Regions from separate parts of the Homo sapiens genome. Here region 2 is linked to region 1. A link means that fine-mapping ties the variant in region 1 to the expression of a gene that starts in the linked region. Tissue or cell type: fibroblasts. Region 1 holds a variant in brackets; the other region holds the start of a gene. All regions are shown on one strand. Distances are between the middles of the regions.

Region 1 (5,000 bases):
CGCACCCACACCCCGCCCCGCGCCCGCACCCCGCGCCTCTTACCCGGTGCCCGGCCCCGCGCCCCGCGATCCGCGCCCTGCGATCCGCGCCTCGCGATCGTCGCCCCGCGCCCACCCTCGGCGCCCGCAGCCGCACCCCGCGCCCCGCACCCGCGCTCCGGGCGGAGCCTTCTGGGCGCGCCTCCCCGCCCGCCCGCCCGCGCAGGGAGCCGAGCCCGGAGGAGGCGGAGGAGGAGCGGCCGCCGCGCCCGGCCCCCCGCAGCCGCCCGGAGGACGCCCGTCGCGGTCGCAGCCTGCGGAGCCGCCCATGGCCCAGCAGCCGGGTTAGCCTCGCCGCGCGCCCCCGCCCCCCGCCCCCCGCCCCGGGCCCGCGCTCACGCGCCCTTGCTGTTTTGCCAGCTGACCGCGCCCCCGCCGCGCCCGCCGCGCCCGCCGCCGACCAGGGCTCCTGGTGCCTGTGCCAGCTCAATGGGGCCGCCGACCTCGAAGTTTCCGAAGGTAAGCGCGGGCTGCAGGGCGCCCGGCCCCGCCGCTCCGGAGCCGCCTCGCGCCCACCCCGCCTCACCCCCAGCCCCGCAGGACCTCACCCTGCCCGGGGACGCGGCCCTCGGGTGCGGGACTCCCGCGACTGGAGGAGAGGGCGCGTCTTCGCGGGCCAGAAGCGAGACTCAGAGAGCCCGGGCACCGACCCCGGGGCGGTCCTGGGGCAGGGCTGGCTCTGCTAGGGTCCGAAGTGCCGGGGTCCCTCCGGAGCGCGTGCTCTCGGGGTCTTGAGGGAACCCGACAGAACCGGCTTGGAACCCTGCCTCCAGCACTTGCTCGCCGCGCGAGCCAGGGCAGATCGCTCCACCGGTGTCAGCCACAGCGTCTCGGCCGAGAACCGGCGCGCTCGAGCCCCCCCTCGCTGCCCGGCTGAAGGTGCGGGCGCGGGGTCCGGCTCGGAGTCCGGGGTAAGACCCAATGCGGCGGAGTTCAGTCCCGGCCGCGGGTACCATCCAGCAGCGTCTACGCGCTCCTCCCGCTGCCCGCGCCGGTGGGTGCTGAGTCAGGCCCGGCTGCTGCTCTGGTTTGGAGAAGCCTTTTTTTTTTTTTTTTGGCTGGCAGGGACAGTCCATGACAGTGGCGCGCCCAGAGCCCGAAGAGCGTTGGTGGGATGGACAGCTGCTCTCGCACCCTGGGAAGTGACCCGGGTTGGCTTTTATGCGGAGGGTCCCAGGGACAGGGACCACACACTCTGTGGCCCGAGACGCTGCCCCGCCTGGATTGAATCCTAGCTTCGCCCTGACCGGCCGGGTGGCCTTCAGCAAGTGGCTTACTCTCTCAGGGCCTCAGTTTCTCTTCTGTGAAATGGGGATGACGTTGCTTAGCGGGCAAGGTTGTGGCAGAGATAAAAGAAGAGGCCTATGGGGGGTACTGGTGAGGGCCCAGGAATCTGTTTTTGCTTTCTTCCCTCCTCCCTTCAGGGGCCCAGTGAGGTGGGTGATGGAAGGTACAGAGGGCTGGTGGACCGGGGTAGGGTGCTGGTCTCTGTCACTTTATATAACAAACACACTGTTCCAAGAGCTTTCAAATATCCAACCCCCCCCCCCGACTCCGTTGAATCCTCCCCACATTATCCCCATTATAGGATAAGGAAACTGAGGTGCAGAGAAGTTAAGTAACTTGCCCGAGGCCACACAGCTGCCAGTGGGAGAGCTCCAGAGGCTGTGGCGAGTCCTCTTTGGCATGTGCTCACACTGTCACGGGAAGACATCACAGGGACACTGTCAGCAACATGGAGGGGACGGGCTGTGGCAGGGAGTGGGGCCCGTTGCCCACAGGTGAGCTCCTCTGTCAGCTGTCAGTGCCCCACAATCTGCTGCAGCTGCCTCCTCAGTCTCATTGTCCCCCGCACTCTGACCACGCCCTGGTCGCCTGCTCATGCTCAGCTCCCTCCAGGCCCCTGAATGTGTCTGTTTCCTACCTCCCTGCTGTGGAGTGAGGGTTTCCGCCCACCTGGGATGCCTTCTCTGTCCCAGGTGTCCTCACCCCTGGGAATACCCTCACCCCTTGAGGGCAGGGACTATATCCGGTCATGTCTGCAGGACACTGACTGTGCTTGGCAAATCGCAGCTTCTCAGTGTGGAATTGTTGACTGTCGATTAGTGAGTGCGTGAGTGAGTGAATGCCACATGGCCTTTCTCTGCTTTTCAGAAAAGGGGTAGGCAGGCTCGATGTAGAACCTTCTTCAGCTCTCTTAGGACTCCCTAGAGCCTGCTTGCGGCTGGCAATGGGTCACGGAAGATCTTTGGGCTGGGAGTCAGTCCCTGGGTTCTAAACGCCAGTGTGTGTATGTATCCATGTATGTATCTGTGGGTGTGTCTGTGTATCTGTGTGTGTATCCAAGTGTGTCTGTGTAGCTCTATGTCTGTATAGGTGTGTCTGTGTGTGTGTTTGTGTCTCTCTCCGTGTGTGTAGCCATTAAGCTCTTTTTGGAATAAAAAAATTGCAAAATGAATGCATGATCACCAGCATCTTGGAAAAACATGAAACAATATGGAAATAGTTGGAGTAAAAGGTGCAAGTCCTCCCCTCCCCCTCCCCCCACCTCCTTCCGACCCAGGACCAGCTACATAATTTGTGGGGCTCAGTGCAAAATGAAAATGCAGGGCCCTGTGTTCAAAAAGTAGGGGAAAGTGTGGTTAAAAGTGCTCACTTTCTCCTGCACTCTCTCTCCGCCTGTCATGGTGGTTTTATTTCCTGTGTAACATCGTGTTCCTTTGGGCATGGGGATGCTTGCAGGGTGAGTGCAGACTCTTGCAAGACGCCTGTCTTCTGGCCAGGGACAGGGAAGTTGAGTGT[C/T]GAGTCAGGCATTTCCCCTTCCCACAGGTCCACAGGTCGATGCCCCAATCCATGGCAGACAGGTACCCCACAGGGCATTGCAGCCTTGGGGTTGAGACAGTTGGTACCTGATGTTCCTGCTGAACTGCCCACCGAACACACAGTGGCACTGCCAGCCCAGGGAAGGGCGGTCACCGCCATGATCCACCCCAGGATGCACTGGGGTGCATACACTCCTAGACCCAGACCCCTGCCAGGGGAGGAGGGCAGCAGTGACACTGAGACAAGGCACAAAGAGGAGGAAGGGTGGGGTCCAGGGTGCCAGAGGCCAGGGGAGCAGTCAGCTGAGAACCCAGGTTGGGGAGGTGGCAGGAGGCAGGAGCACACGCTCCATGCTCACAGCACAGGCTCTGCTGTTCCATCAGACATTGCTTAGGAAACACACATTCAAAGATTCAGCTGTCAGGAATTTTATGACTCTGCAGAGCCTTAAACCCCAAGCACGAGCCCCTTCCAAGCATGAGGCCTGTGTGGCTGCCTGGGTCACACACTTGTGAAGCGGGTGCAGCTCCAACCCCATGGCTGTGGATAGGCACAGAGCTCCAGTAACAGCAGCCAACACTGAGAGGTGCTTTGTAGGATCCAGGGACGCTTCCAGTGCTTCCTAGGTATGAGCTGCTTTCCTTCCGCCACAACCTGGTGAAATGGGTGCTCTTGTTGGCTCCGTTTTACTGAGGCACAGAGAGATTAAGTGATCTGCCTGAGGTCCCACAGCTGTTAGTGGCGGAGAGCCTTTCAGTCCTCCCCCAAGGCTTGTCCTTGGTCACTCTACCCCACCACCTCTCAACAAGGGCCTGGAGCTCACTGCTGCTGTCAGAAAAAAAGCAAATCTTATTTTTTTCATTTGCCAGTATGGAAACGCCCCTGGCTTGGAGTTGCTTCCAGAAGAACATAGAAGTTCCAGCCCTTAGTCTGGTAGCCAAGAGCCTGGGTGGGCTGGGCCTGGGGGGCTGTGCACTGTCCCCTGCTTGCCCTCCTCCAGGAGGGTCTTGCATGGGTCTTGCATGGGGCTGCTCCCTGCCCTGGGGCACCCCTGCCCCTGCCTTGCCTGGCTAACGCCTGCATAGCCTTCAAGGGCCCCAGGATGCCTCTTCCTTGGTGGGCTTCCCCTGTGGTTCCCCCAACACCTTAAGGGACATGTCAATTTTGACGTGGAATCCCCAGGGTTTGAGTTGCCCCTTGGGGTCACACACCACATGTTTGAGGAGTGAATGGATGAAATGGCCTGAAATCTGATTAGCACATGGAACACAGTTCAGGAAGGGAGCTGTCTTAGTCCGTTGGGGCTGCCGTAACAAAACACCATATAGCCTGGGCAGCTTATGAACAACACAGGTTTATTTCTCACCGTTCTGGAGGCTGGAAGTCCAAGATCAAGGCGTGGCGGATTCAGTGTCTGGTGAGGACCTGCGTTCTGGTTCACGGATGGTGCCTTCTTGCAGTACCCTCTCAGGGTGGAAGGGGCAAATGAGCTCCCTTGAGTCTATTTTAGAAGGGCACTAATTTCCTTCTAATTGTTTCCCCAGGGCCCGGCTCCTCATATCTCACATTGGGGGTTAGGATTTCAACATAGGAATTCAGGGGGACACAAGCATCCAGTCCACAGCAGGGGGGATTTTGGAGGAAGTTATGCATGGGGCAAGAATTGGGTTAAGGTGTTGGGAGTGTAGTTGGCACAGTGATCACAGATGCTGCGTGTTGCAAATTTGCAGCCCTGGGTGAAGTTTAATCTCTTTGCCTCTGTTCTGTGTGTGTGTGTGTGTGTGTGTGTGTGTGTGTGTGCTGTGTATTTTTTCAGAACTGCCATTTATTGGGCACTTCTGTGAGCCTGGCACTGCACGGGCACTATGCACTATACACTCTATCTCACTTATCCTCAAGTCAACTTGTGAGGGTGTGGACGTGCCCACTGCCCCCGGTTTTACAGAGGAGCACACTGAGGTGCCAGTGATGTGCTCCAGGCTGCTTAGCAGTGAGAGATGGATCTGAACCTAGTTCTTCCTGCCTTGGCTGGACTGCGAGCTGCTCTCCCAGTGTTTAAATTTAGGTTCTGTTCTGTGATTCCTTCTCAGGAAACTGCTATTGTCAGGGCTGCCTGCTCATCAGAGCCCCTGTCTCAG
Region 2 (5,000 bases), 89 kb after region 1:
TGGAGGGCACGGCAGTGAGTGAGGAGATGGCGAGTGTAGCTGTACCCTTTTGGCATTGTGGTTGTGAATGGCAGAAATGCAATGTGCTGGTGGCTGAAGGGACACGGAGTGAGGATAGCTTTTGAATGTGGAAGAGACCCAAGCAGGCTTACGCTGTGAGAAGCATCTGGAGAGATGCTGACAAATTTCACCTTATTGAGCTTTCCTCTACACTCACCTTTATAAAATGGCACCTCCTCCTCCCCGTTCCTTTCTATCTCCATCTCCATCCCCGCCTTCATCTCCATCTCCATCCCCATCTCCATCCCCGTTCATCTCCATCTCCATTCCCGCCTTCTCCTCTGCACCAGTCATGGCCCACACAGTACATGCTCACTTTATGCTGTCCATCTCACCCCACTGGGAGGCCAGCTCCACGAGAGCAGAGCATTTCTCTATTCTGTCTTCCACACTACCCTAGTGCTGGGAACATGCCTACACATAGTAGATGCTCAATAAACATTCCTCATTGAATGAATGAAAGTACAGAGAGGAGTCTGTACAGAGAGGCTGGGGGTGGCAGGATCTGGAGCTCAGGCTCTGTCAGCGGGGGCAGGGCTGTGTGCAGATACAGATGAGGAAGCAGCAGATTGTGTGATTTAGTGGAGGTGGGGGGTGGGCAGGGGGCTGAGGGAGAGTCCTCGGTTGTGCTGGAGGGGGAGGGCTTCCAGGAAATGGAGGAGACAGTGTGGAGGAGCCCAGACACTGCTTGTGGTGGGGGTGGGGCAGGATGGGGTGGTGAGGGGTGAGGAGGGGATGGATGCAAGCCTTGGGGCCCAGTCAGGTTGGAAAGACCACCCACTGCAGGGTCCCCAGCATGGCTCAGAAGCTGATGAAAGGGATGATGTACTGTGTCAGGCCAGAGTGGGGCTGTTTTCATTGTAGTCCAGGACATCCCGGGAGATGAGGCTGATGCCAGCATAGGGTGGGTGTTTTGGCAGGATTGACAGATAGGGAGAGGGGACTTCTCCATGATCAGAGAGGGAGGCTGAGGAACATGCGGGAGGGTGGGCCTCAGCATGATAACAAGAGAGCTCCCAGGAGGCCTGACCCCTGCTGAGCAGGACTGGCCACCCCAACCCAGTGGGGCCACTCCTGCCATCACATCCACTTTACAGATGAGGTTGTGCCTGGGCCCCCTTGTGGTCAGGACTTGAACCCAGCCTGTCTTTCTCCCAGCATAGCCATTTTGCTGGCTCCAGCTAGAGAGGTGAGGGGGTGTGGACAGAGAGTGGGGGGCTGGCCTTAGGATGTGAGGTGGGGGGCATGTGAGCAGACAGGTGAGAGAGAGAGAGGAGAACATGCCAGGTGGGTGGGGGCCAATGTGGGTGTCGGTCACTTTCCTACGGGGTAGAAAGTGACAAAGAACAAGCACATCCTTCCGGCCCTTGCATTTACCTGGTCCTTGAATGGAGTCTGCACAGCTGGGAGATTTTGGCTTGTTCCACAGTGAAAAGGTAGAGGCTGGAACAGGGCAGGGCACTTGCCAAAGCAGGTGCTGGCAGGGCCCCAGGGCCTCTCCCCAGGCCAGCCCTTGCATGACAGCCTGCAGAGTGCTGGTGGGGCTGCTGGGGGGCTTTCATCTCCTCATAGGTCCATTCTGGGGATTTCAAAGGCACGAAAGCTGTAGCTTCAAAAACTCCCTCTCAATCTCCAAGAAATCTGAGACGGCATCACCTTCCCTCGTCTTTCCCACAGCCCCAGTCTCCCTGCCCCCAACGCCTTTGGACTCTCCTACCTCCACTGCAGTTTGGGGAGCTGTCTGGAGTTCCCCCAGAACCATTTGAAACAAGTGGAGGCCATTACAGACCAGCCCCCACCTGGAGCATGGCTCCACTGATGCCTTAGACCCAAGAGCCCCTGCAGCTCTGGTCACCCCACTGCACTTACCCCTCCCAGGCAAGCCACAGAGTCCCTCGCTTTCCAGGAAGGCTCTGTTGAGCTCCTAGGGAGGGCTGATGGTTCCTCACCCACACCTCTGAATCCCCACTGGGGCTTGTGTCCCGTGCAGGGGACTGTGATTCATTAGGCGGTGGGTCACGGTGGAGGAGGTGGCAGCTTGGCAAAACAGGAGGCAAATATTTTTTGAGGGCCCACTATGTGCCAGGCTGATTACCAGAGGGAGGTTCCTGTTTGGCAGAGCCCTGGGTTTGGAGGGGAGGGAGGGAAGGGAGGAGGGGGACGCATTTTCCAGCCTGGTTTTGGAGGTACCTAGCTCTGTATTTCTTTAACTTTCTCACTCGTCAGGAGAGGTGGGCATGAGGAGAGATCTCAGAGCCCTGCCTGGGGGAGGCCCAATCACCCCTCCAGCCATTTCATCCAGTTTTGCCTTGTCGGCTGCTGGACCCCCTCCACCAGCTTCTTCACATGTACTTAATGCTCCCAACGGGCCCCAGAACTTGCGCGACCCACCCTCTTCTACTAATGAAGGGAGACAGTGTCCTTCCCCTCCCCCGAGTCCCCATTCTCCAGGTGCGCCCTCTTCAACTGCGACCCCACTCCTTCCTTCCTAGTCCTTTCTGCCTTCTGCCTGCGAGGCTGCTCTCCTCCTGCCCCCTTCCCAGCACCCCGGCTCTTGGCCTTCTCTCCCATAACTGGAGCACCTGGGCACCCAAGGTACCCTCCCCCCAAGCTCAGCTGATCACCCTCTCCCCGCAAGCTGGCGGTCTCCTTCCTCCCTCCCCCGTGGCGCACCCAGCACCAAGGTGCCCACCGCGAGGGCCCGAGCACGGCGGTGCAGCCTCGGCTTGGGCGCCGGCTCCACCTGCAGGGCCGCGGGGGCGGAGAGCGGGCGGCGCGAGGGAGGGGCCTGCGACAGCGGCGGCGGCGGCGGCCCCAGCCCGCGCAGCCCGGCTCGGCCCCGGCTTGGTCGGCGCAGCGCAGCGCCGCGCGCGTCCCCTCGCCGCCGTCGCCGCAGCCAGGCGCACCGGCACCAGGCCCCGCCGCCGGGCGCACGGACGCAGCGCGCACGGGCCGGCCGGGATGCGCGCCTGGGCCCCGGCCCGCCCGAACCCGCGGCCGCCGCCCGCCCACCGCGCGCTCGCTTGACCGCGGCGCCCGCCCCCGGCCGCCCCCGCCCGTCCCCCTGCCGCGATGCCCTCCCTTCGGGGCCCCGGCGGCCCGCGCCCCTGCTAGGCTGCGGCGGCATGGCCCGCGCGCCCGGCGCGACCTCTGCGGATTGCATCGGTGTGTGGCGGCGGGGCATGCCCAGAGCACCGGGCACGGCCTTCAATGGGCGAGGACACGGACACGCGGAAAATTAACCACAGCTTCCTGCGGGACCACAGCTATGTGACTGAAGGTAACGTACGTGTTGTCTGAGACCCCTCCGGCCGGCCGCGGCGTGGGGATGCCGTCGCACCGAATGCCCTCCGAAGGTTTGGACCGCGCGATGTGTGTCGTGTCCCCCCGCCCCACCCCACCCCACCCCATCCCACCCCACCCCACCCCATCCCATCCCACCCTGCCCGGGGCCCAGGAGGGAGGGAGCCCGAGGGTACCGGCCTCCGCTGCCCAGCGCCGGCACAGGGCAGCGCCCTCCTCCGCGCCGCCCTCCGGGAGGCAGCTTTCCTCTCCCAAGCCAGGTGGCATCCTGATTCGGCCCTGACCATAATTTTTTAAAAGGCCACGGCTGTGGCTAATCTGGTGAAGAAATCTCGGGGAAATTTAATGGTTTAAATCCTGGATTTGCCATTTCAGCCCTGCCCAAAGCCCGCAGAATTTTCTAGGCTGCCCTCTCCCTGGAGAAGAAGAGGGACCCGGGGGGAAAAAAACATAATCCATTGCCAGATCCTCCTGGGAGGCCCGCCTGCCCGGGCCCCTCCCTGTCCTCCAGAGGCAGGGTCCCTGAGTGGGAGGGAGAAGGCGGCTGGTTTGGGGCTGGCCTTTTTATTCCTGGTGAGTTATATTGAGACAGGAGCAGCTGGGCTAACTGTCGGGATTTTCCAAAAAAGTGGGACATGCCATCCCAAACAGGCCCTGTTTAAAATCCCCTAAGTTGGCCCTACAAGCCCAACCCCCACCCCCACCCTACCCCCGAGGCTGGTGGGTCAGCGCCCCTCTCTTACAGGCCTGGAACTTCCGGGGGCCCCCTGGTCTGCCTCGCTAGGGGAACAGTGGGGACAGCTTCCGTGCGCAGGCAGGGCCCGCGGAGTGACCCCGATGGAGGATGGGGACCGGGAGGTCTGGGCTCGGGGCCGCCTGTGCTGGAGCCCTGCCCGAGTGCGGGGACTGTCAGCCGCTAACCCACGGGCTGGCGGCCCGGCCGCAGAAGTGTGCGCGGATTCCCCGGGTGGGTGCCCCAGTGGGAGGGGCCCTGGGCACGGGTCCCGCGGGGCAGGTGCGCGTGGGTGCCTGTGTCAGGGAGACCGAGTGGGCCAGGCGGCGGAGACCGGGCTCCTGCGGCTGGGTCCGCCTCCTCGAAGCCTGGCTCTGCCGGAAATGAGGCCGAGCGGAGCCGGAGCCCCGCGGAGGCCCGGGGAGCGCAGCGCGAGCGCGGGCGCGGGCGGGCTCGGGGCGCCCTGGCCCGGGAGGCAGAGGCTGGGCGTGGGACCTGGGCGGAGGGAGGCTGCGGGGGCCGCGCCCGCTCCCGGCGGGAGAACCGCTGAGTCACGCACGCTTCGCCGCCGGGTGTGTGCGAGAGAGGGGCAGGGCTGCCCGGGCCTCCGGGCCGGTGGGGCTCTGACCCGGCCGCGGCTTTGGGAGGCCCGGGGAGCTGAGAGCGGTCCTTTGTCGCCTGCTTCGGCGAGGCTGAGTCGGGATCAGCGTGGGTCCGGGATGTGGTTTCTGCTCGCAGCCTGCAGCGACAGAGGGTTGGAGGAAGCCGCCGGGTTGCTGGCCCGTGCCTCGGTGGCCTGGCTCGGGCCGAGAGCGGATCTTGGCAGGTTGCCCCGCTGCTCCCAGGCTCGCTGTGGTCTGGCTTCCTGGAGCAAGCCTCTGTTTGCTCATCTCTACGTTGGGGA

Which allele goes with the higher level. Positions count from the first base shown, and alleles are read on the strand shown. Sizes are in standard deviations (SD) of each study's normalised expression.
For the expression in fibroblasts of the gene that starts at base 2,886 in region 2, allele C in region 1 goes with a lower level than allele T (large effect, 0.91 SD a copy in GTEx).

Evidence for each region. PIP is the estimated chance that this variant, and not a neighbour inherited with it, causes the effect.
Region 2: PPP2R2C starts here. The variant in region 1 is fine-mapped to the expression of PPP2R2C in fibroblasts (GTEx, PIP above 0.99).

What each region holds. Positions count from the first base shown.
Region 1 is chr4:6,559,058-6,564,057 of GRCh38, reverse strand. It overlaps a transcript of PPP2R2C not described here. Among named protein-coding and RNA genes, the nearest start is that of MAN2B2, 14 kb to the left of the region's middle. The variant C/T (reference allele first, on the strand shown) is at 2,842.
Region 2 is chr4:6,470,500-6,475,499 of GRCh38, reverse strand. PPP2R2C (protein phosphatase 2 regulatory subunit Bgamma) reads left to right here and starts at 2,886. Exons shown (of 9, transcript NM_020416.4): 1 at 2,886-3,340. The coding sequence starts at 3,271. RefSeq lists an enhancer at 4,577-5,000.